Homo sapiens: one gene and its partners. The protein of the gene in region 1 purifies or fractionates together with the protein of each later gene. This does not show direct contact. Each region holds a gene or a part of one and is shown in the gene's direction. Other genes may lie near its edges.

Region 1 (2,977 bases):
TGCCTCTCCCTCTCTCTGTCTCTCTCCAATTCTGTCTCTGACTTGCTTTGTCTTTAACTCTTTATCTCTCTGTCTGTGTCTTGTTCTATCCCCCTCTCCCTGTTCTTGCAACTCACCCTCTATTTCTGTTTCTGATTCCCTCTCTCTGTCTCCCTGTCTCTCTCTGTCTCCTGATTTTCTCTCTCTCCAACTTTCTCTCTATACCTCTCTGATTCTCCCTCTGTCTCTTTTTCTGTTCCCCTCTCCCCGTCCATCTCTCCCGGCCTGCCACCTTCAGGGGTCCCCACGGAGTCTGGACCATGGAGGAGCGAGGTCTGGCCCCCAAGTTCGACACCACCTTTGAGAGCGCGCGGCCCACGCAGACCCACATGGCGCTGGTGCAGCTGGAGCGCGTGGGCCTCCTCCGCTTCCTGGTCAGCCAGAACGTGGACGGGCTCCATGTGCGCTCAGGCTTCCCCAGGTAACACCCTGGCCCCGCCCCCACAAAAGAGCTTGGGGCCCCACAAACCGTGTTTGCATTTTTAGGGGGAGAGTCCCCTTTTCCTGGTTCTATAAGATTCTAGCCCTGAGTTCTTGGCCCAGTGTGTGGAGATCTCTGAGTCCCATGGCTCAGAGCTGTCCCGGCTGAGGCCAGAGGCAGAATTTCCCTCGAGATGGGGCTAAGGGGAGGAGAGCTGTCAGGGTCTAGAAGTTGCAGTTTGTTTTTTGTTGTTGTTGTTGTTTTTGAGACCGAGTTTCGTTCTTGTTGCCCAGGCTGGAGTGCAATGGCGTGATCTCCGCTCAGCCTCCCAGGTTCAAGCGATTCTCCTGCCTCAGCCTCCCTAGTAACTGGGATTACAGGCATGCGCCATCACACCCAGCTAATTTTGTATTTTTAGTAGAGACGGGGTTTCTCCATGTTGGCCAGGCTGGTCTTGAACTCCTGACCTCAGGTGATCTGCCCGCCTCAGCCTCCCAAAGTGCTGGGGTTACAGGTGTGAGCCACCACGCTTGGCCTGTTGTGTTTTTAATATCCATCTTTATTAATCTGACACTAAACGTGTCTGACACTGAAGTGAACCTGTGCTCTGGGGCAGGCTGATTTCCCAATAAAAGTGTGGCCCTCCCCTGCCCCTCTTTGCCAGGTCTCACCCCTGGGGCAACCAATGACAGCCAGGTCAGTTGTTGAGACGAGGAGCTCGGCAGCCAGGGGTGAGGGGTGAGGAAGAGATTTTTCTCTGCTTATAAAAGCAAACGAGGGGCCGGGCATGGTGGCTCACATCTGTAATCCCAGCACTTTGGGAGGCCGAGGCAGGCGGATCACGAGGTCAAGAGTTCGAGACCAGCCTGGCCAACATGTTGAAACCCCATCTCTACTAAGAGTACAAAAATTAGCTGGGCGTGGTGGCGCATGCCTGTAATCCCAGCTACTCGGGAGGCTGAGTCAGGAGAATCGCTTGAACCCGGGAGGCAGAGGTTGCAGTGAGCCGAGATGGCGCCACTGCACTCCAGCTTGGGTGACAGAGCAAGACTCTGTCTTGAAAAAAAAAAAAGCAAAGGAGGGTCAGGTGTGGTGACTTATGCCTGGAATCTCAGCACTTTGGGAGGCCAAGGCGGGCGGATCATGAGGTCAGGAGATCGAGACCATCCCGGCCACATGGTAAAACCCCGTCTCTACTAAAAACAGAAAAATTAGGCTGGGTACAGTGGCTCACGCCTGTAATCCCGGCACTTTGGGAGGCCGAGGCGGGTGGATCACAAGCTCAGGAGATCGAGACCATCCTGGCTAACACGGTGAAACCCTGTCTCTACTAAAAATACAAAAAATTAGCCCGGCGTGGTGGCGGGCGCCTGTAGTCCCAGCTACTCAGGAGGCTGAGGCAGGAGAATCACTTGAACCCCGGAGGCAGAGGTTGTGGTGAGCTGAGATTGTGCCATTGAGGTTGTGGTGAGCTGAGATTGCACCATTGCACTCCAACCTGGGCAACAAGAGCAAAACTCTGTCTCAAAATAAATAAATAAATAAAATAAAGCTGGGATTGGATCTCATGCTTCAGGGCCATTCAATGTCTCGGTTTCTTCCATTATAAACTGGGAATTTGAATTCCTGTGCTTCTGACCTGGTGACATCAAGAGGTTCCCATATGCTCTCGGAGGGGGACGGGCATTTTGTGAGTGGAAAGGGCTTCCCGTTATCTAAGGTGGGTTCAGCCTTGGGGGTTAATGATTCCTTGGGCTCAGAGAGGTTGGTCCACTTGCCCAGAGATGCACAGCAGATGAATGGTGGAGCCAGGAGCTAGAAGAGCCAGAAAGAAGGAGTTGATCAATGTTGTGGGAGAGGAGTCCGGGAAGCCTTCCTGGAGGAGAGGGGCTTAGCACCAGCTCCAAAGCCTGGGCATCCAGGGATCCTTTCCCACCATCAAGCCTCTTCCTGCTCTTCCCACAGGGACAAACTGGCAGAGCTCCACGGGAACATGTTTGTGGAAGAATGTGCCAAGTGTAAGACGTGAGTGCCACCTGGGTGCAGGGGTGGGGGCTCTGCCAGAGGGGGTTGGGGGTCGAATCCGATGTCCCAGAGACCCAGAGGGTATGGGGGGACTGGGGTGTGGCCCTCCTGGGGGGATCTGGGGGCGTGTCTCCCTCTTGGGGGGATATAAGGAGTATGTCTCCCTCCTGGAGGGATTTGGGGGGCATGTCTTCCTCCTGGAGGGATTTGGGGGGGCCGTGCCTCCCTCCTGTGGGGGGTACATCCGTGTCCTGGCACTGCTGTAGCAACCTGCCACAGATGAGCAGCGTAGAACAATAGAAATTTGTGATCTCACAGTTCTGGGGACCAGAAGTCCAAAATCCAGGTGTCTGCAGGGCCATGCCCCTCTGCAACCTGTAGGGGAGGATTTTTCCTGCCTTTTCCTGGCTGCTGGTGGCAGCCAGCCACCCTTGGTGGTCCTGGACCTACAGCCACAGGGGCCTTCTTATCTCTGTGTTTCTCCTTTTTTTT
Region 2 (3,500 bases), on another chromosome or scaffold:
GAGTTACGCTAGCTTATTTGAATGACTTACAAAACATGTTTACACGTGTTAACTCATTTACTTTGGAATACAGCCTTTGAGGTTTACATGTGAGGAATCAGATACTTAAGAGTTTTTTTTTTTTTTTTTTTTTGAGATGGAGTCTCTGTCACCCACCCTGGAGTGCAGTGGCACAATCTTGGCTCACTGCAACCTCTGCCTCCTGGGTTCAGGCAATTTTCCTGCCTCAGCCTCCCAAGTAGCTGGGATTACAGGCACACTCCACCACGCCTGGCTAATTTTGTATTTTTGGTAGAGATGGGGTTTCATGTTGGCCAGGCTGGTGTCGAACTCCTGACCTGAAGTGATCCACCTGCCTCAACCCCCCAAAGTTCTGGGATTACAGGCATGAGCCACCCCGCCTGGCCCAGATACTTAGAGCTTTAAGAAGACCAAGGTCATAGATCTCATATTGGGCAGAACCAAGACCAGAACTGAGGTCTTGGTCTCCACATCCTGTCTTCTTTTAGTTAACATATGCTGTTCCTTTTTAATTTAATACTTCTAAAACATTTAAAAATGTATTTTAAAATATTTTTAAATATATATTTCAGCTGGTTGCAGTGGCACATGACTGTAGTCCCAGCTACTCTGGGGACTGAGGCAGGAGGATCACTTGAGTCCAGGAGTTTGAATACAGCCTGGGTAGCATAGTGAGACCCTGTCTCTAAAACAGTAAATAAAATAAATTAAAAAAAATTACACACACGCGATATATTTCAGGGGAAATCTAACATCTAGGTTTTATTTTAATATTATATAATTGAGTTTTCTTCAGATCAGTTGGCTTTATATATAAATTCCAAAAGATATTATTCCCTAAGCACAATGTGGTGGTAATGAACTTGAGCTTTGAAGTTAGGCAAACCTGCAGTCAAGTACTAAGCCTGGTATTTCTTAGTTGCATGAGTTTAAACAAATTACTGGATCCCATAACGCTTCTGTTTCCTCGACTATAAGTAATAACAATCAGATTTACTACACAGGAATTTAAAGAAGTCTGTCCGTGAGGCTTCATATGGATTATGCAGTGCAATTTTTGCACATTCGTAAGCTATAGCCCTGCCTTTGCCCACCAGTGATGTTGTGTATGTGTGTGATTTTCTTTCCTAGGGGCGGCCTGTGGTAATTTGTGATAAGGAGGATACTGAGACCATTAAGAACACAAAAAGAACGATCAAGGTGCCCCACTCAGTGGACTGCTTGCAGGGCATTCTCAGCGTGATCCCTTTACAGTTGCTGGCTTTCCACCTTGCTGTGCTGAGAGGCTATGATGTAAGTCATCTACCACTGCAGAAATCTTGGGATGGTTTTTTACCTGGATACATTCTGATTTTTTTCTCCTAAATTTTTAACAATAGTGTTTGAGAAATCTATCAAATATATATCTGTCACCTGTTATATTTTCATGGCCCAATTTGTAGGTTACATCACAACATCTTCTTACCCATAGAACTTGAAGGAACCTTGGGGTTCACCTCCAAGATTGTGACTCACCTTGGGTAGTCTCCACCTGTTTTCTTAATATAACCTCTATCTCTTAACAGGGCAGCTATTGGCATTTGGCAGGACAATTCTTTTTTGTTTGGAACTGTCCCACACATTGAAGACTTTGTAGCATTCCTGGTTTCTCAGCCATTGTGGCAACCAAAACATAGTGCTTTTGTTTTTAGTGTCCCCTATGAGGGCTACTACTTCTGTAGAGGACCACAGTAGCTCTTTCTGTGTGAACTGGCACCTTTAGAATGCTTTTTCCTAACCAATTTCAGTTTTTTTCAGGACACATTATGTGATTATATTTTCTAATCTAATTCTTTGTAGTCTGTAATAAAGATGGTTAATGAATGTATTGTTTTCTGTTTTTATAAACAAAAATAATTTGCTTATAGTAACCACCCCCTTCCCCAGTCTATATAATCTCTCAAATCTTGCTTTTTTTTTTTTTCTTTTTGCAGGTTGATTTCCCACGGAATCTTGCCAAATCTGTGACTGTAGAGTGAGGAATATCTATACAAAATGTACGAAACTGTATGATTAAGCAACACAAGACACCTTTTGTATTTAAAACCTTGATTTAAAATATCACCCCTTGAAGCCTTTTTTTAGTAAATCCTTATTTATATATCAGTTATAATTATTCCACTCAATATGTGATTTTTGTGAAGTTACCTCTTACATTTTCCCAGTAATTTGTGGAGGACTTTGAATAATGGAATCTATATTGGAATCTGTATCAGAAAGATTCTAGCTATTATTTTCTTTAAAGAATGCTGGGTGTTGCATTTCTGGACCCTCCACTTCAATCTGAGAAGACAATATGTTTCTAAAAATTGGTACTTGTTTCACCATACTTCATTCAGACCAGTGAAAGAGTAGTGCATTTAATTGGAGTATCTAAAGCCAGTGGCAGTGTATGCTCATACTTGGACAGTTAGGGAAGGGTTTGCCAAGTTTTAAGAGAAGATGTGATTTATTTTGAAATTTGTTTCTGTTTTGTTTTTAAATCAAACTGTAAAACTTAAAACTGAAAAATTTTATTGGTAGGATTTATATCTAAGTTTGGTTAGCCTTAGTTTCTCAGACTTGTTGTCTATTATCTGTAGGTGGAAGAAATTTAGGAAGCGAAATATTACAGTAGTGCATTGGTGGGTCTCAATCCTTAACATATTTGCACAATTTTATAGCACAAACTTTAAATTCAAGCTGCTTTGGACAACTGACAATATGATTTTAAATTTGAAGATGGGATGTGTACATGTTGGGTATCCTACTACTTTGTGTTTTCATCTCCTAAAAGTGGTTTTTATTTCCTTGTATCTGTAGTCTTTTATTTTTTAAATGACTGCTGAATGACATATTTTATCTTGTTCTTTAAAATCACAACACAGAGCTGCTATTAAATTAATATTGATATATTCAGTATTCTCTTCAACTTTGTCACGAGGAAGAATTTCCTGTAGTTAATTTTAACTTTCCTTCATTACATTGTTGCATAAAACTAGTCCCTTAGTGCCAGTTTGGAAGTTACTTGCAATTGTTTGGAAGATTTGCAGGTCGCTGACCTCATCATTTCACTCTAAGTATATGTGGTAGGCTAAGCTCAGAAAAAGGTATGTATGCTTTACACTGATAGGCACCAAATTTAGTATTGTATCCTAAGTATTTTTCCTCTTCTGTATTTTCTGTGCTCTACCCCTGAAATATATTTAGGAATAAAGAAGATATAAATAAAGTGATATTGGGGTATGTTCAGCTTGTAAGTGTCAGAAATGGAAGTTGACAATTTGGATTAAAATATTTAAAGTAGAATGTTATTATTTGATACCCCCAAAATTGTGAGTAATAATTTCTTAATGGAGCTTTTCTGGCCAGATCTTCAGGGCTATAGGAGAGTGTGTTTGTTTTTGGTGAAGTCCTTCTTTTTCAAAGGTTTTTACTTTTAAATTGTGAAGATAAGCTAT
Region 3 (3,500 bases), on another chromosome or scaffold:
GGTAGTAAGGATACAAATATTCAGAGTCTGATTAGAAGACAGAAGCTACACAATAATTTGAACAGAAAAGGTTTTTTTTTATTGTTTGTTTGTTTTTTGAGACAAGATCTCACTTTTTCGCCCAGGCTGGTGCGAGCACAGCTCACTGTAGCCTCAACCTCCCAGGCTCAAGCAATCCTCCTGCCAGAGCCCCCCCGAGTAGTTGGAACTACAGGCATGCACCACCACCTCTTGCTAATTTTTGTGTTTTTTTTGGAGACAGCATTTTACCATGTTGCCCAGGCTGGTCTCAAACTCCTGGGTTCAATCGATCCACCTTCCTTGGTCTCCCAGAGTGCTGGGATTACAGGCATGAGCCACAGCACCTGGCCTTGAATAGCTTTTACTGGCCTGCAATGCTTTTGCAGGCCAAGGAGTAATATTTTATCTTTATTTTGAAGATGATATATTGACTTGCTGAAAGCCACAGTTGGTAGTAAGGAGATAAATATAGTCCAGTTAGAAGACAGAAGCTACAGAATAATTTGAAAAGGGAAAGTTGAGAATTAATAACAGAATTAATTAGAGAAATGAGGAATTGATTAATAAGAGTTAAAGATTAAAGAGGATTTTAAAGAATACAAGGACAGCAGATACAGGGAACAACCTGTATCCCTGGGGCTGAAAGAGAACATCCAACGGATAGTCTGTCACCCCCATGGCCCAGGCTTGAGATCCAGACCTCTTTGGACACTGCTGGGATGCACTGGGTGGCTGAAAAGGTGCTGAGATGCCTCCCTGGGAATCCCTACTAGAAACTGTCCATGAGAAGGTGCTGGGCCCTGGAACCCCCTACAGAGTCACCTGAGAGAGTGTCCGGGAGGCCATTCACAGGGTGGTCATTCGAGAGGAAATGCCTCACTGGAGGCACTGTACTGTGAAGCTATCAGAAGAGGTGCTGGGTAAGCTGCTGACTACTGTTAGGGGCAGGAACCTGGAGCCCTGGAGGAAGCTGATCTGCAGCAGGCTGGTGACAGAGGCACAACCAAACCCTGCAGTGCCCTTCACTGAGAAGCCTTACCTTCTTGATAACTGGCAAAGGAGAAGTATTTGCAGAGCCCATCTCTCATCACTGAGCAGGCAAAGAAGGGTAGATTTGGAGCTGAGAAGCAATAAGTTAATAACTTAAAGAAGATAAGACTTCTGTCTTCTGGGCTCTCAATATCCATGCTTTCTGCTTCCATTCCCTGCACTAGCTCATTAAAACTTTCAACTCTAAAATTCTACGGTTTTGTATTCTTCACTTAAGTGTGAATTGCTGTGCTTGAGATCCCAAGTCCACATTAACTGGACTTTAAAAAATCATGACTAGACACTGTAGTCATGATTGCTGTTGTTGCTTTAATACAGGTAGGCTCTTGCCTTTGGGGAGTGTATATGGACAGTCCTGGCTGCCTCATGACTTCCACAAAACATGGTTGCTAATTCTATTTCTTTTTTTTTTTCCTCCCAGATGGAGTCTCACTCTGTTGCCCAGGCTGGAGTGCAGTGGCACAATCTTGGCTAACTACAACCTCCGCCTGTCGGGTTCAAGTGATTCTCCTGCCTCAGCCTCCCGAGTAGCTGGGATTACAGGCGTGTACTACCATGCCCCACTAATTTTTGTATTTTTAATAGAGACGGGGTTTCGCCATGTTGGCCAGGCTGGTCTGGAACTCCCGACCTTGTGATCCGCCAGCCATGGCCTCCCAAAGTGCTGGGATTACAGGCGTGAACCACTGCTTCCAGCCTTGAGCCACTGCGCCAGCCCTGTCTTTTAAAGTTTTTTTTTTTTTTTTTTTTTTTTTAAAGAGTCTCGCTCTGTCATCCAGGCTGGAGTGCAGTGGCATGATCTCTGCTCACCACAACCTCCACCTCCTGGGTTCAAGCTATCCTTGAACCCCAGCCTCCCAAGTAGCAGGGATTACAGGTGCTCGCCACCACACCCAGCTACTTTTTGTATTTTTAGTAGAGACAGGGTTTTACCATGTTGGCCAGGCTGGTCTTGAACTCCTGACCTCAGATTATTCGCCCGCCTCTGCCTCCCAAAGTGCGGGGATTACGAGTGTGAGCCACCGTGCCCAGCCTTGTTTTTTGTTTTTGAGAGTCTCACTTTGTTGGCGATCTCACCTCACTGCAGCCTCTTCCTCCCGCGCTCAATAGATGCTCGTGTCTCAGCCTCCCAAGTAGCTGGGATTACATGTGTGCACCACCACACCCGGCTAATATTTGTATTTTTTTTAGTGGAGACGGGGTTTCTCCATATTGGCCAGGCTTGTCTCAAGCTTCTGATCTCAAGTGATCTGCCTGCTTTGGCCTCCCAAAGTGCTGGGGTTACAGGCATGAGCCACCGTGCTCAGCCTATTTCTTTTAAAGTTTTAAAATGATAATAAAGTATTAATCTAGTTTGGATGTAGAGATGTTTATGTTCTCATGTGAAGAGGAAGTACCATTTTTTGGAAAGAAAAGTAGCACCTTAAAAAACCCCAAATCTATATTTTTGTTTTAATAGATTATGAGCCTCAAACAATTTGTGAGCATCTCCAGTACTTGTTTGCCTTGTTGCAAAACAGTAATAGGCGATACATTGATCCATCAGGATTTGTTAAAGCCTTGGGCCTGGACACTGGACAACAGCAGGTAAGAACTGAATTTTTTTTTTTTTTTAAATATTCAGAGGTACCCAAACATCCTAAGCATGTTTATAAAGGGAGATGAAGTAGAATGCTTTTTAAAAATTAAATTTTTTCTATTTTGAATGAAAACCTTTATTTACTGTCCAATAGTTTACACATTATACTTGATTCCATTTATGGAAATTCATATGGGGGCACAAACTGATTGAACATAGCTGTAGCCCCTGTTTGAAAATGCTAAGTTGAAAGTATAGGTAGTTTCTGGAATGTTGAATGTATTACTATTTGTAGTAGAAGTTGAAAAGCAAGATATGATTTTTCTTTTCATTAACCTAAACTTGTAGGATGCTCAAGAATTTTCAAAGCTCTTTATGTCTCTATTGGAAGATACTTTGTCTAAACAAAAGAATCCAGATGTGCGCAATATTGTTCAACAGCAGTTCTGTGGAGAATATGCCTATGTAACTGTGTAAGTCTGTTTCAACTTTTTCATGGTACATTTTATTCTAAGACAGTTGCTCATATGTTAACTATTTTTCAGTGCAGTTCCAGGTTGTAGCTTTAGTGGTTTATCATGGGACCTGAAATATTTATAGTAATACATTTCCATGGGAACATATAAACAAGTGAGTTGGTAATTGCAGTTGCACCCATCCAGGTGTTAGGAACGGTGTCTGGGTGAGCTCTTGCAGTCTGCTCTTGCTTTATGGCTGTGTGGTGTGAGCTAAAGAGTAAGATTGGAACTGGCTAGAATACTAAAAGTAAATGTAAAATGCCTGTTAAAAAAATGTGCATGAGTACAATATACAACATTTGGGTGATGGTTACATTAAAACCTAGACTTCA
Region 4 (3,500 bases), on another chromosome or scaffold:
TCTTCTCAGTTTTGGGATTTTGCCATTAGAAACCCCAAGTCCTGGAGATGGATCCTATTTACAAAACTACACTAATACACCTCCTGTAATTGATGTGCCATCCACCGGAGCCCCTTCAAAAAAGGTATTTTCCATGTAAAATGCAGTTTGGGAATTGATTAAAGCAACTTGTTTATTTCAATCTTTTAAAGGTAATCTCAGGGAAAATCTTACTTTATGTAATTGCTTTTGCCTTATATTTGAACCCAGCAGGTAGAGGGTGATCTAAATATAAAAGAATGTCATTATTGTTGTAGCCTCTTGGTTACAGTAGGAGACAGACTTCTTACTCTTTTGGCCAAGTAAGATTGTATCTCACAAATTTAGTTTATTTCAGCATATAGTTAAATAAACATAATCATATTTTTACTTTTTAATTTCCTTTTTAAAAAACAAAATTAATATTGTTTATATTACTTGACTATAAATAACAGAAATTATGTCTGCCATAGTTTTTACTTGTCCCTACCACTGTGTATATATGTTTTTTTAATAACACTAATAATTATATGAAAAAAAATTTGCTCAGGTAAAGCCAGATATTTCTGATAATAAGATTTTTGGTAGATCATGGATGTATAGTTTTAACATGAAAATGAAAAATATTTGGTAGTATACTTATAGTAAATATTGCGGCAAGTTTCATGAGGCTTTTTTTTTTTTTTTTTGAGACAGGGTCTCGCTCTCCTGCCCAGGCTGGAGTGCAGTGGTGTGACCATGACTCACTGTAGCCTCTACCTCCCAGGCTCAAGTGATCCTTCCACCTTAGCCTCCCAAGTACCTAGGACTATAGGTGTACACCACCACACCCAGCTAATTTTTTTAACTTTTATTTTTGTAGAGACAGGATCTCACTGTGTTGCCAGGGATGGTCTCAAACTCCTGGGCTCAAGCAATCCTCCTGCCTTGGCCTCTCAAAGTGCTAGGATTATAAACATGAGTCACTGCCCTGCTGAGGCTCTTGTTTTATAATGTTCCCTTTTATAGGTATATGGAAATAGAGGCCAAAATACCATTTTTAAAAAGCATATCTGTGGCACAAGGTAACTTCTGTGAGAATTAAATTAGGTTCTATATATAAAATACCTATTGCCATGCTTCATAAATATTCAAGAAATGGAAGCTAAACAAGTCATACTAATATGTGAATAACAGTTATACTCTCTTTACCTTAATAGAAACATGTTTCTTCTTATAGTTGTTTTTTTACTATTTTACTCCTGAACATCCTTAGAATCTGCAAAAGATTTTTCTATAATAACTCCTTAGTGAGTGATAATAGGAACTCCAAGAATACTTAAAAGGGACTGCAAAATAGTTTGTGTATGGATTGTTTTAAACATTACAGTTATGAAGAAGGCAAAACAAAATGGTAGTTAGCATGCCAGGTGAAGTAGGCCAAAACTAGAAGAGCCATAATAACCATAATAACCAGAGCAAGTTAAGACAGTGGGCAGGCACATGATTTTAGTGCCCAGATAAGATTGCTCTCTCATCCTCTTCTGCCTCTGTTCTCCTCTTACCTTATTACAAGACATTCCCAGAAAAGTCACGCATGTAGGTCTGCATGCAGTGTCAACTGAAAATATCAAACCAGGTATTGAGTGCAGTGTACATAGTTCTTTGATAAATAAGGAAAAGCCAGAGTTGACTTTTGTCCCTTGGATGAATGTAGTGATCCCAATTTGGAAAAGGCGGAGGAAGGCTTATGAAGTTTTATTTTGAAGTGGTGGTACATTAGATGAAAATATTCAGTAGAAAGTTAGTCATAGAGGAAAAAATGTGACCTGCTGATAGAAATAATAATTGAAACTATTAAAATGACCAGGCTCTCCTAGGGAAAGAAAGAGTAGCTAAGGAGAACAGAGTAAACCTAATTTAAAAATAGTAGAAGGATAAAGGGCCAGCAAATGAAGTGGCAGGACAAATAATGTAATGTTTTGGAAGTAACACAAAGTTTCAAAAAGTAGGGCATGATCAGTGATGTTGAATGCAGGAAAGGCTAAAATAAGGTTTTAATATCTGATGAGACAGTGATTATTAGTGATTATTTATAATATGCAGTTTGAGGATTGTGTACAGGACATCAGGGTAACAGTAAGTTTTGAAGAAAATTCTCTGGTAGCCAAAGGGGAAAAACAGTGCACTGATACAATAGTCATAGATCATTTAAAGAAGCTAGATGGTGGAAATGAATAGAAATAAGGGAATAAATTAGAGAAGACTGAAGAGCCAAGCAAAGATTTTTTTTTCTCCAAGGGAACAGAAACCAATTAATGAAGATTAGAAAAACTAAGCAATATTAACTCTAAAGAACAATATCCTTAGGTTTTGGAAAGTAATCAGATGGTTGTTTTTTTAAAATCTACTCCTCTGAACTCCTTTAGAACTGTTACCAAGTGCCAAAGGAGTATAAAATCTTATCGTATTATTATTTTTTTCTGTGTATAATGAGATAAATCATAAATCTTGAGAATTTAGCTGTCTTAAAATTTTTTAGTACTTAACCCCAAATAGAGAAGGTATGTAATAAATGGAGGATGGTCACAATGAGATGAAAAGAATAGCTTCTGGGGATTTTTAGTCTTTGAAACAAAAAGCGAAAGATGAAAAGACATTATAGAGGTAAAAATACTGTGAGATTAAAACAGGGAAATAGACTGATGTTCATACTAATACAACAATAATTAACAATATGATATAAATAGTTTATCTTTAAGGTGACAGTATATTATGGCTGCTTGTATTGAGAAAATGTAGATGGGAGCGTTGTGTTGTCTTTTATCATTTACAGTGCAGCCCATAATTCACAAACCTTAGACTTTTCGTGTTTTACAGTCTGTTGCCAGAATCGGCCAAACTGGAACAAAGTCTGTCTTCTCACAGAGTGGAAATAGCCGAGAGGTAACTCCAATTCTTGCACAAACACAAAGTTCTGGTCCACAAACAAGGTATTTATCATTGTAATTATTCAACTTTTCTTGGCATAAAACTTGATTCTTTACATTTCTTTAATTTAGGCAGATAGTGACTCTCGTGGATTCTAGAATAACTACTGTAAATTTTGAAGATGTAAAATTTGAAACCTCTAACTTACAACACTAATGTAATTTTGAGTTGAGTTTTGTAATGCACAGAAGACAATAGTTAACTAAAGCAGCATTTTAGTTTACTCTGATTGCCTCATGGATTTGTAATTTTCTTCTTATGCACATGACCCTTTCTATAGTTTAGGTACAGATAGGTTTCATACTCCCCTTCCCCACATTATGCATGTCTATAAACAGATTATAAAAATAACAGACAAATAAACTTCAAATAATGAATCTATTTCCACACAGAAATGGTGTTAGATAGGATTTTCTTTTCCTCTTCAAGGACTCAATAGATTATAGCTAACATTTTAAAAGGAAGATACAATTTTCTTTCTCCTTTCTAAAACTGTGAACATGTACCTAAAT
Region 5 (2,903 bases), on another chromosome or scaffold:
GTGTTTCCAAAGCTGTTGCTACAGCCCGAGGCACCCTGGACAGCACAGAAGCCGGGGGCTTGCTGTCCTGAGAAGGCTGCCTTGTGGCTGGCTGTCAAACAGCTGGAGATTCATTTTATCTTTTCGAGGGGTGTGTGTGCGTTGTTGTTGTTGTTTGGGGGGTGGTGGTGGTGGTTAATATGCTGCAACTGACCATGATTGGAGGTTCATTTTATTTATTTTTGTAAAAAAAAAAAAAAAATAGGCAAGCTCTATAGCAGGAGGTTCATTTTTAAAAACAGTTCACTCTCTGTGGCTGCAGCTGGTATCACAGATGCCACAGGAGAATCTTGGTGCAGGCACCAGTAACCAGATGCACGGGTTTCGGCTTTAACCTAACTTGTAGCTACAGCAGTGAGGGACCTCTCGTGACATAGTAGTGCCTGGAGCATCTTGGATTGCTAGAATTTGCAGCATATGATTTAGAACCTTCCACTGCCTGGTTGAAGTGGCCGCTTTGAAATTCTATTGAGCCGAAATGTGATCCTGTAGGGAGGGTACTGCCACTGTTCTCATTAAACTCAGTGAAGGTTGATGCCCTGGGAACTTTGGTTTATTGCCTTAGTTTTATATCTGAAGAAAGATAGAGCATGTCTTTAAAATGAGCACATGAGGCTGGGTGTGGTGGATCACCTGAGGTCAGGAGTTCGAGACCATCCTGGCCAACATGGTGAAACCCTGTCTCTACTAAAATACAGAAAATTAGCTGGGTGTGGTGGCGCGCACCTGTAATCCCAGCTACTCAGGAGGCTGAGGCACGAGAATTGCTTGAATCCGGGAGGCGGAGGTTGCACTGAGCTGAAGTCACACCATTGCACTCCGGCCTGGGCGACAGTGAGACTCCATCTCAAAAAGGAAAAAAAAAAAAAAGAAAGACCACATGGACCCAACATCAAATAGAGCTCATCTCCCTGGAAGCTTTGCCACATCTGTACTCACAGTTCATGTCACTTGTGACTTCTGTTTTTCAGGTTTGGGCAAAACTACCCCTGATCCTTCAGCTAACATTAGTCTGGATGGTGTAGACGTTCCTCTTGGGACCGGGATTTCATCTGGTGTGAATGACACCTCTCTACTATATAACGAGTATCCTTTCTTGAGTATGCTGTGTGAGCACAAAGGGATGTTCTCGAGCTACAGAGTCACTTATGTGCTGTCAGATTACCTGGGGCAGACAAGGATTAGAGGCTGTCCTGTAGTGTGTCCCATGGTGACTGTTTCCCTTCTGTGGTCCCTCCCTGTGCATAGCCTGGCTTACAGGGTATGAGCCTTCCCCCAGTTTCCAGAGGATGATCTCCTCTCCTCAGTCTGCCTGAAGAAGACTTAGAGTAACTTTCAGGCTGGCATTGAGCATCCTGCCAGCCCCGGGGAGATGAGGCAACCCAGCCCCATGAAGAGGCCTTAGAGTGACTTTCAGGCTGGCACTGAGCGTCCTGCCAGCCTGGGGGAGATGAGGCACATGTACATACCCTCTGTTGTATGGCTGTTGGCTCCTTAACAAGCTTCCCCTCAGGTACATTGTCTATGATATTGCTCAGGTAAATCTGAAGTATCTGCTGAAACTGAAATTCAATTTTAAGACCTCCCTGTGGTAATTGGGAGAGGTAGCCGAGTCACACCCGGTGGCTCTGGTATGAATTCACCCGAAGCGCTTCTGCACCAACTCACCTGGCCGCTAAGTTGCTGATGGGTAGTACCTGTACTAAACCACCTCAGAAAGGATTTTACAGAAACGTGTTAAAGGTTTTCTCTAACTTCTCAAGTCCCTTGTTTTGTGTTGTGTCTGTGGGGAGGGGTTGTTTTGGGGTTGTTTTTGTTTTTTCTTGCCAGGTAGATAAAACTGACATAGAGAAAAGGCTGGAGAGAGATTCTGTTGCATAGACTAGTCCTATGGAAAAAACCAAGCTTCGTTAGAATGTCTGCCTTACTGGTTTCCCCAGGGAAGGAAAAATACACTTCCACCCTTTTTTCTAAGTGTTCGTCTTTAGTTTTGATTTTGGAAAGATGTTAAGCATTTATTTTTAGTTAAAAATAAAAACTAATTTCATACTATTTAGATTTTCTTTTTTATCTTGCACTTATTGTCCCCTTTTTAGTTTTTTTTGTTTGCCTCTTGTGGTGAGGGGTGTGGGAAGACCAAAGGAAGGAACGCTAACAATTTCTCATACTTAGAAACAAAAAGAGCTTTCCTTCTCCAGGAATACTGAACATGGGAGCTCTTGAAATATGTAGTATTAAAAGTTGCATTTGAAATTCTTGACTTTCTTATGGGCACTTTTGTCTTCCAAATTAAAACTCTACCACAAATATACTTACCCAAGGGCTAATAGTAATACTCGATTAAAAATGCAGATGCCTTCTCTATTTGTGTATTGCGTGTCTGGTCTCATTCTGACTACAGATATGGTTAATCTTCACAGTGCAAGGTCCCAAGAGACTTTGGGGGGATTGTTTCTACCCTTAATCTGTGAAACCCCAGAACGTGCCAGGCAGCAAATAGCATTGCTTAATGGGAATGCCCCACCTAAGGGTGGGCCAAGCACCAGGCATAGGAGACACTTTTTTTTTTTTTCGGCTTATCAGATGCATTGTGGTGATGAACTCATCCTGCTCTCTGGAGGACTGCCTTTCATACACCACATTGCCTTGTACAACTGCTCTGCATTTGAGAATCATACTTAAATGTTTACGTTTCAATTGCCTGAAAGCAGGGCCAGTGTCTTATGTCACCTCTGACCTTTTACGGAAGGGGACAAGTGAGGTAGTAGCTCACACCTGTAATCCCAGTGCTTTGGGAGGCCGAGGTGGGAGGATCATTTGAGGCCAGGAGTTCAAGACCAGCACCTTTGACCTGGAGACCCTCT
Region 6 (3,332 bases), on another chromosome or scaffold:
GGTATCCTAATGTGTTAATAGCTGAAACTCAGCTGTAATTTCTCCTAAATACTTCAGCATTTTGCATTCTGTACATTGTGGTGCTTTTTCCACCTTGTATTGTTGTAACTGTAAGCTCCTAGGGGGCAGCAATTTGGTCTTAGGCGTGTACCCTGTTTAGTGCCTGGCAATGCCATGTTTATATCAAGGTCTTAATATTACTTTTGAGTTATTTCTCCCACTCTTCATGGAAGTGATGCTCCAGCCTTGCTAAAACACTGAGGGTCCTCCCGATAAGCCAGGCATTGTGATTCCTTGGCTTCAAGTGCCTTCTGTCTTCCCCGAAGGTCCACTGAGATCTACAATCCCCCCTTTCCTCTGATCTCTTGCCATGTAAGTAATTTTTTAAAAGATCAGTACAAGAGCTATATTTTTTCCTAAGAAAAAATTTCAACAGGAATGGGGAGTAGCCCCGTTTTGGGGCTGATCTGTCCAGAATTTGGAGTGAGGAACAAATCCATTCTCATCTACTTTCCACATTTTCCCTCTTGTTTGAGGTCCTGTTCCAACCTTCATTTCTGAAACTGTTCTAGAGCACTTTGTCTTTCTCGTAGTTCATAACTTACCCCTTCAGTCTAGAATTAGAATTACATTATCTGTTTTACTACTTTACTAGACTGTAAGCTCCTAGAAGATAAGGACTAGGGAGTTCATCTCTGTATTCCACCAGAAGGTACAGTGACTCATAACTAGAGTCTTTAGATGAAACTTACTGAGTTGAATAACTTAATATATTTCTGTTTTCATTCCCAAGGGAGGCCATGTCTGGAGATAGACCTTGAATTTAATAAATTTTAGGCACTATACCATTTCAGTGGAGAAAATTGTTGGGAAATTTGGGGGGATGGATATATAAGGGGGAGGAAGTCACTGGCCAGTTTGAGGTGCTTCCATTGGTCTGGGTAACTAGCCATTTCTTCCTGATTGTGCCTAGTATATCCCAGACAGTTTGTTTCTATGCAGAAGAATTTTATATGAAATTTTCATTTCTTTGCAAAAACTTGTTCCTTCTTTCAGTTCATGACATCATCCATGCTAAAGTCTGAGTCATCTGCTTCCATTTTTGTTATTCCCCACATCCAGTCTTCAGCTAAGTCCTGTCAGTTCTACCTCAAGTCTTTCCCGTCTTTCTTCCTCACCTATGTAATTTCAGTAGTCTCTCAGCTTCACTTAACCTCTTACTCCAGCCTACTTTATACACAATGTTAGATTCATCTTACTGAAACATAGTTCTGACCATGTATTCCATGTATGTGTTCTCTCTCCCCTATTAGACTGTAAGCTCCTTATGGGCAGGATCTGTGTCTGAGTCATCTTTGTATCTTGCCTAGCACCTATCAATAAATACTTCTTGAATGAACAAATGAATTCTCATTTCTCGACATAAAGCCTTGTCTAAAGTGAGATGTTTTCCAGGTCATACATAGGTTTCTCCCTGGGGTAATTGGAAGTTCTTGCATATAAAGTTGGTTAAATAGTAATAATTATGAGTTAACCACAGAAAATTTCAGAAAACTTTAATTTTTTTCCATTGGAATCAGCATGGATATGTGTATATGGATGGTTCAATAAATATACTTTTATATACATGTTTCACAGAAATTTTACATTCCATCTTCAAACTGCAGAAATAGATTTTTTTTTTTTACAAGCCAAAAAATAACTGCCATAACTTTTGTGACTTCATGCAAAAAAAGGGGGGAAGAGTAAGGGGCAAAAGGGAATTAGTTGTTCAAGGTTGAGTGTCCAGTAAGAAGTAAAAATGTTACATTAAGGAAGCGATTGCTTAACACGCTGCTTAAGGTGGTAGCCAGACAAATCCTTAACTGCAGCATTAAGGCCATACCAAGTTTATACATATATACAAAGAAATTTCCATATAAAAGACATACTATCACATTTTCTTCTTCATAAGGATGAGGAACTTTGTAATTCTGACCTGATTTTCCAGGCCAATTAATTAAAATGTCCCCAGGCTGCTTTTTAGAAGTATCTTCTACTTTGGCTAGCTGTCAGAGTTGCCGCTATGTGAGCTTGTGACTTCTGGTCTGGCGTGAAAGTATGAATCATCTTGAACCTCTTCCATCATAGCACTATGTTGCTGAGCTAATTCATGCTGCCCAGCTAAGCACATTTTCTACATCCCCAAAGTATTTGGAATCACAGCATTGTAACTTGTGATTGTCTTACCTGTAACAGACTCCACAGTCATGCTGGCATTGTGACCTGAAGAATTACACAGTGCCCTTCTTAGATTCTTTGGGGTTAAGGTAACTTCTTGAATAATGTACTAATGAACGATAGTGTTTCAGGAAACATGCCCTAGCTATTGGAAGTTCGTATCTAACTTTTACCCCTTGTGTGTCATGATACATTTAAGTTGGTAGCTACATTTTTGGAATAAAGGAAATGTAAAATTATTTGCAGAATAATAACCTGGGATTTGCTCTTCTGCCTAAACATCGAACTAGGGAACTTTAAAGACAAAGGGTGCATCTTTTGTGCAAGTATCTAAGCGGGCAAAATGGGGAAAACATGAAGGGCAAGTCCTTTGGGGATGACTTCTAATTAATGCAGAAGTCATTTGCTTTGGCCAGGTTGGGTGGGACTCTGAGATTGCACACTCTTGCCCTGTTGGCAGAAACTAGCCCATCTTAAGTTAGTCAATGAATCCTGAGTCAAAATGAAAGGTTGCTAAATCTAAGATCGAGTGTATAAATAAAATAACCCCTTCCTCCAGTGACTGTGCATTTATTTTGTAATAAACTCATTTTGGAATGTTTTAGCAATGAATTGGTATCTCTCTGTTGTCCTGTTCATCGCCAGTTTTCAAGTATGGCTCCAGTGTGTTCACAGCTATGGCTGCAAGGTAATTTGGTCTCTTTCTATAGCTTCCCTAGGCCAGTCAAGTTTGAGAATAAGGTCTCCGTAAGTGGCCTGTCCTGGGAGAGAGGACCAAGTGATTTGTGATTTGGAAGCACTGTGGTATGTTTGAACACTTGCCAAGTTAACAGTCACTGAGTATTCTAATCATGCACCAGCCACTCTTCACCCTAAATGTACTACAAGTTATTCATTGCAGTAACTTGCATCAATTCTAGATAAGGTGATTTTTATTCAACAGGTCTACTGTGATGCTGATCTAGACAATGAGAGTGGAATAGCCTTTGGCAGTCTTGGAATATCAAGAGGGCTTAAAAGTATTAGGTTTTTGTTTTGGTCATTTTGTGTTTCACTTTGTCCATTTCAAGTCCAAAGCAGTTGAAGACATGTTTTATCCAGTTTGTCAGATG
Region 7 (3,500 bases), on another chromosome or scaffold:
AACTCAGAATCTTTTGTATAGTTAAAAAAAAGGAAGCATGTTTTCATTTATAGTAAGGTTACACCCAGGTTACTGGTAGAACATAGGTTTGCAATTCTTTCCTTGGGAGATGAATGTTGATGTTGCTGTAGAATGATGACTTGAGCCATAAGAAAATTTAGAGCCTCATTTAGGATGTCAGGGCTGAACCTATACTAATGTTGATTTTTTCTCTCTCTCCCTTTCTAGGCTCATGTGTATTGTGAAGGAAATGATGTCTATGATGTCATGCTAAATCAGGTAAGAGGCAAGAAGAGGTGGCACCATTATATTTATGAGACCATCTTCTTGATAATTATTGATGATAGCATCACAGTGTTCAGATCTTTAAAGTCCCTTTTTTTTTTTTTTTTAAATTTTGTTTTTTCTTTTTGAAATGGAGTCTCACTTCATCTCTCAGGCTGGAATACAGTGGCACAATCTCGGCTTACTGTAACCTCTGCCTCCCAGGTTCAAGCAATTCTCCTGCCTCAGCCTCCCAAGTAGCTGGGGTTACAGGCGTGCACCACCACTCCCAGCTAATTTTTTGTATTTTTAGTAGAGACAAGGTTTCGCCACGTTAGCCAGGGTCTGGTCTCGAACTCGTGACTTCAAGTGATCCACCCACCTCAGCCTCCCAAAATGCTGGGATTACCAGGTGTAAGCCACCACGCCTTGCCTAAAGTCCTTCATATGTGTGTGTGTATATATATATATATATATATATATATATATATATATATATATTTTTTTTTTTTTTTTTTTTTTTTTTTTTTTTTTTGAGACAGAGTCTTGCTCTGTCACCCAGGCTGGAATGCAGTGGTGCAATCTCGGCTCACTGCAATCTCTGCCTCCTGGGTTCAAGCAATTCTCCAGCCTCAGCCTCCCAAGTAGCTGGGACTACAGGTGCAGTGTCTGGCTAATTTTTTGGTATTTTTAGTAGAGATGGGGTTTCACCATGTTGGCCAGGCTGGTCTTGAACCCCTGACCTCAGGTGATCCACCCACCTCACCCTCCCAAAGTGTTGGTATTACAGGCATGAGCCACTGCGCCCGGCAAGTCCTTTATATTAATATTAGCCATTAGTGGTTAAACACCTGAGTACTCAGCCCTAGCACACTCTTATCAGATAGCAGAGTCCTCTGTGAGAAGATTTTTTTTTGCAAATTTCATATCATTTATTGAAATTGTTAACTCTCTGTTCATATCCTTTTGCACATTTTTTTTTTTTTTTTAAACAGACAGGATCTTGTTCTGTCACCCAGGCTGGAGTGCAGTTTGTACAGTCATAGCCCACTGCAACCTTGAACTTCTGGGCTCCAGCAATCCTCCCACCTAAGCTTCCTGAGTAGCTCGGACTTCAGGCGCATGCCACAAAGCCTGACTAATTTTTAAATTTTTTATGGAGATGAGAATCTCGCTATGTTGGATAGGTGGTCTTGAATTCTTGGCCTCAAATGATCCTCCTGCCTTGTCCTCATGAGGCACTGGGATTACAGGGATGAGCCACTGGGACAAGCTGTTTTGCACATTTTCTAAAGTTATTGGTCCTTTTCTTACTGGTTTCGAGGAACTTTATATAATATGGAGAATAGCCTTTTGTCTGTAATACAAACCACTTGTGTTTTCCAGATTTGTCATTTACCTTTTGGTTTTCCTTATAGTACACTTTTTGCCCATATTGAAGTTTTAAATTTTTTCTGTAGTTAAATTTATTAATTTTTCCTTTTTAAAAAATTTTGGGTTTTTTTTTTTTTAATTTTAGAGACAGTGTCTTGCTATGTTGCTCAGGCTGGCCTTGAACTTGTGACCTCGTGTGATCCTCCAACCTCAGCCTCCCAAGTAGCTGGGACTACAGGCATCTGCCCCCAAGCTCAGCTTTCTTTTTAATCAACCTTTTTCTCTTGTTTACCTTTGTGGTTTTGAGTAGATAATACATTTGCCTCATTAATATATTTCCTGGATATGACTTCATGTTTGAATTTATTGATCCAACATATATAATTTTAACAACCAATTAGTATTTATTTCTTACTATTTCTTCTACTTAAAATACCACGAGCAGATAGAAAATACCTTAAGGTTAGCCAGGTGCAGTGGCTCACGCCTGTAATCCCAGCACTTTGGGAGGCTGAGGCGGGCGGATCACCTGAGGTCGGGAGTTCAAGACCAGCCTGACCAATGTGGAGAAATCCCATCTCTACTAAAAATACAAAATTAGCCAGGTGTGGTGGCATATGACTGTAATCCCAGCTACTCGGGAGGTTGAGGCACGAGAATTGCTTGAACCTGGGAGACGGAGTTTGTGGTGAGCCGAGATCGTACCATTGTACTCCAGCCCTGGGCAACAAGAGCAAAACTCCTTCTCAAAAAAAAAAAGAAAAGAAGGAAAATACCTTAAGGCAGCCAGGTGTGGTGGCTCATGCCTGTCATCCTAGCACTTTCGGAGGCCAAGGCTGGAGAATCACTTCAGGTGTGAGTTCAAGATCAGCCTGGGCAACATGGTGAAACCTTGTCTCTACAAAAAAATACAAAAACACCGGGCATGGGCCAGCTACTTTGGAGGCTGAGGTGGGAGGATTGCTTGAGCCTGGGAGGTTGAGGCTACAGTGAGCTGTGATTGAGCCATTGCACTCCAGCCTGGGTGACAGAGGGAGACCCTATCTCAAAAAAATAAAAAATAAAAACCATAAAAACATTTACAAAAAAATTTTTTAAAGGAAAAGAAAATATCAAGCTGGGCATGGTGGCTTATGCCTAAAATCCCAGCACTTTGGGAGGCCAAGGCGGGCAGATCACTTGAGTTAGGGGTTCAAGACCAGCCTTGCCAACATGTTGAAACTCCATGTCTACTAAAAATACAAAAAAAAATTAGTCTGGCATGGTGGCGTGTGCCTGTAATCCCAGCTACTAGGGAGGCTGAGGCACAAGAAATTGCTTGAACCTAGGACACAGAGGTGGCAATGAGCGGAGGTTGCACCACTGCACTCCAGCCTGGGCGACAGAGCAAGACTCTGTCTCAAAAAAAGAAAATATCTTAGGCTCCTTTTTGTTCTAACATCTAATGACCTTTTTTTTTTCACCAGTGGGCTAAGGTCGTACAATGGCTTTAGAATGTGAGCAAGCAGGAGATAGAGGTAGGAAGGGGCAGCATGCTTAACAAAAAAGAATGCCTCCATATCCAGGGCTCGGCCATACAACACCAGCTGCTATGCCTTATCATGGACTTCTCTCTCTTCACTCTGAGTGATTTACTTACAGATACCTCTTTTTAGATACTGGCCATATTCTCTCTCAGTATCTCCAAGTCAGGTCAGGTTAGGTATGGGACGGATGTGGCAGTGGTTTTGCGTATCCCTTGTCCCCTCCCATTATTGCCCTGCTCTCAGCTCATTGTCAAATTTCTGCAGCTGACAAACAAAAGCTGTGAGTAGAACTGTCAAGGAGTAAGTCATTTAACAGTTGAGCATAACAGGTTTAGA

The links.
Region 2: the proteins of SIRT6 (region 1) and GFPT1 purify together in Homo sapiens (affinity purification with mass spectrometry; 3 studies listed by BioGRID and IntAct, with this or other methods). This does not show direct contact.
Region 3: the proteins of SIRT6 (region 1) and USP48 purify together in Homo sapiens (affinity purification with mass spectrometry; 3 studies listed by BioGRID, with this or other methods). This does not show direct contact.
Region 4: the proteins of SIRT6 (region 1) and CDC27 purify together in Homo sapiens (affinity purification with mass spectrometry; 2 studies listed by BioGRID, with this or other methods). This does not show direct contact.
Region 5: the proteins of SIRT6 (region 1) and PARP1 purify together in Homo sapiens (affinity purification with western blotting; 2 studies listed by BioGRID, with this or other methods). This does not show direct contact.
Region 6: the proteins of SIRT6 (region 1) and G3BP1 purify together in Homo sapiens (affinity purification with mass spectrometry; 3 studies listed by BioGRID and IntAct, with this or other methods). This does not show direct contact.
Region 7: the proteins of SIRT6 (region 1) and PARP2 purify together in Homo sapiens (affinity purification with mass spectrometry; 2 studies listed by BioGRID and IntAct, with this or other methods). This does not show direct contact.

Annotation. Positions count from the first base shown.
Region 1 is NC_000019.10:4,176,587-4,179,563, reverse strand, and holds part of SIRT6 (NAD-dependent protein deacylase sirtuin-6), read left to right. Parts: intron 1-277; coding exon 278-460; intron 461-2,425; coding exon 2,426-2,485; intron 2,486-2,977. UniProt on the Homo sapiens protein: NAD-dependent protein deacetylase, deacylase and mono-ADP-ribosyltransferase that plays an essential role in DNA damage repair, telomere maintenance, metabolic homeostasis, inflammation, tumorigenesis and aging.
Region 2 is NC_000002.12:69,324,728-69,328,227, reverse strand, and holds part of GFPT1 (glutamine--fructose-6-phosphate aminotransferase [isomerizing] 1), read left to right. Parts: intron 1-1,152; coding exon 1,153-1,314; intron 1,315-1,994; coding exon 1,995-2,039; 3' UTR 2,040-3,500.
Region 3 is NC_000001.11:21,752,150-21,755,649, reverse strand, and holds part of USP48 (ubiquitin carboxyl-terminal hydrolase 48), read left to right. Parts: intron 1-2,530; coding exon 2,531-2,658; intron 2,659-2,998; coding exon 2,999-3,123; intron 3,124-3,500.
Region 4 is NC_000017.11:47,151,296-47,154,795, reverse strand, and holds part of CDC27 (cell division cycle protein 27 homolog), read left to right. Parts: exon of another isoform or gene 1-9; coding exon 10-124; intron 125-2,859; coding exon of another isoform or gene 2,860-2,877; coding exon 2,878-2,990; intron 2,991-3,500. UniProt on the Homo sapiens protein: Component of the anaphase promoting complex/cyclosome (APC/C), a cell cycle-regulated E3 ubiquitin ligase that controls progression through mitosis and the G1 phase of the cell cycle.
Region 5 is NC_000001.11:226,360,191-226,363,093, reverse strand, and holds the end of PARP1 (poly [ADP-ribose] polymerase 1), read left to right. Parts: intron 1-1,010; coding exon 1,011-1,125; intron 1,126-1,552; coding exon 1,553-1,634; 3' UTR 1,635-2,403; downstream 2,404-2,903. UniProt on the Homo sapiens protein: Poly-ADP-ribosyltransferase that mediates poly-ADP-ribosylation of proteins and plays a key role in DNA repair.
Region 6 is NC_000005.10:151,809,954-151,813,285, forward strand, and holds the end of G3BP1 (ras GTPase-activating protein-binding protein 1), read left to right. Parts: 3' UTR 1-2,832; downstream 2,833-3,332. UniProt on the Homo sapiens protein: Protein involved in various processes, such as stress granule formation and innate immunity. Plays an essential role in stress granule formation.
Region 7 is NC_000014.9:20,346,635-20,350,134, forward strand, and holds part of PARP2 (poly [ADP-ribose] polymerase 2), read left to right. Parts: intron 1-228; coding exon 229-279; intron 280-3,500. UniProt on the Homo sapiens protein: Poly-ADP-ribosyltransferase that mediates poly-ADP-ribosylation of proteins and plays a key role in DNA repair.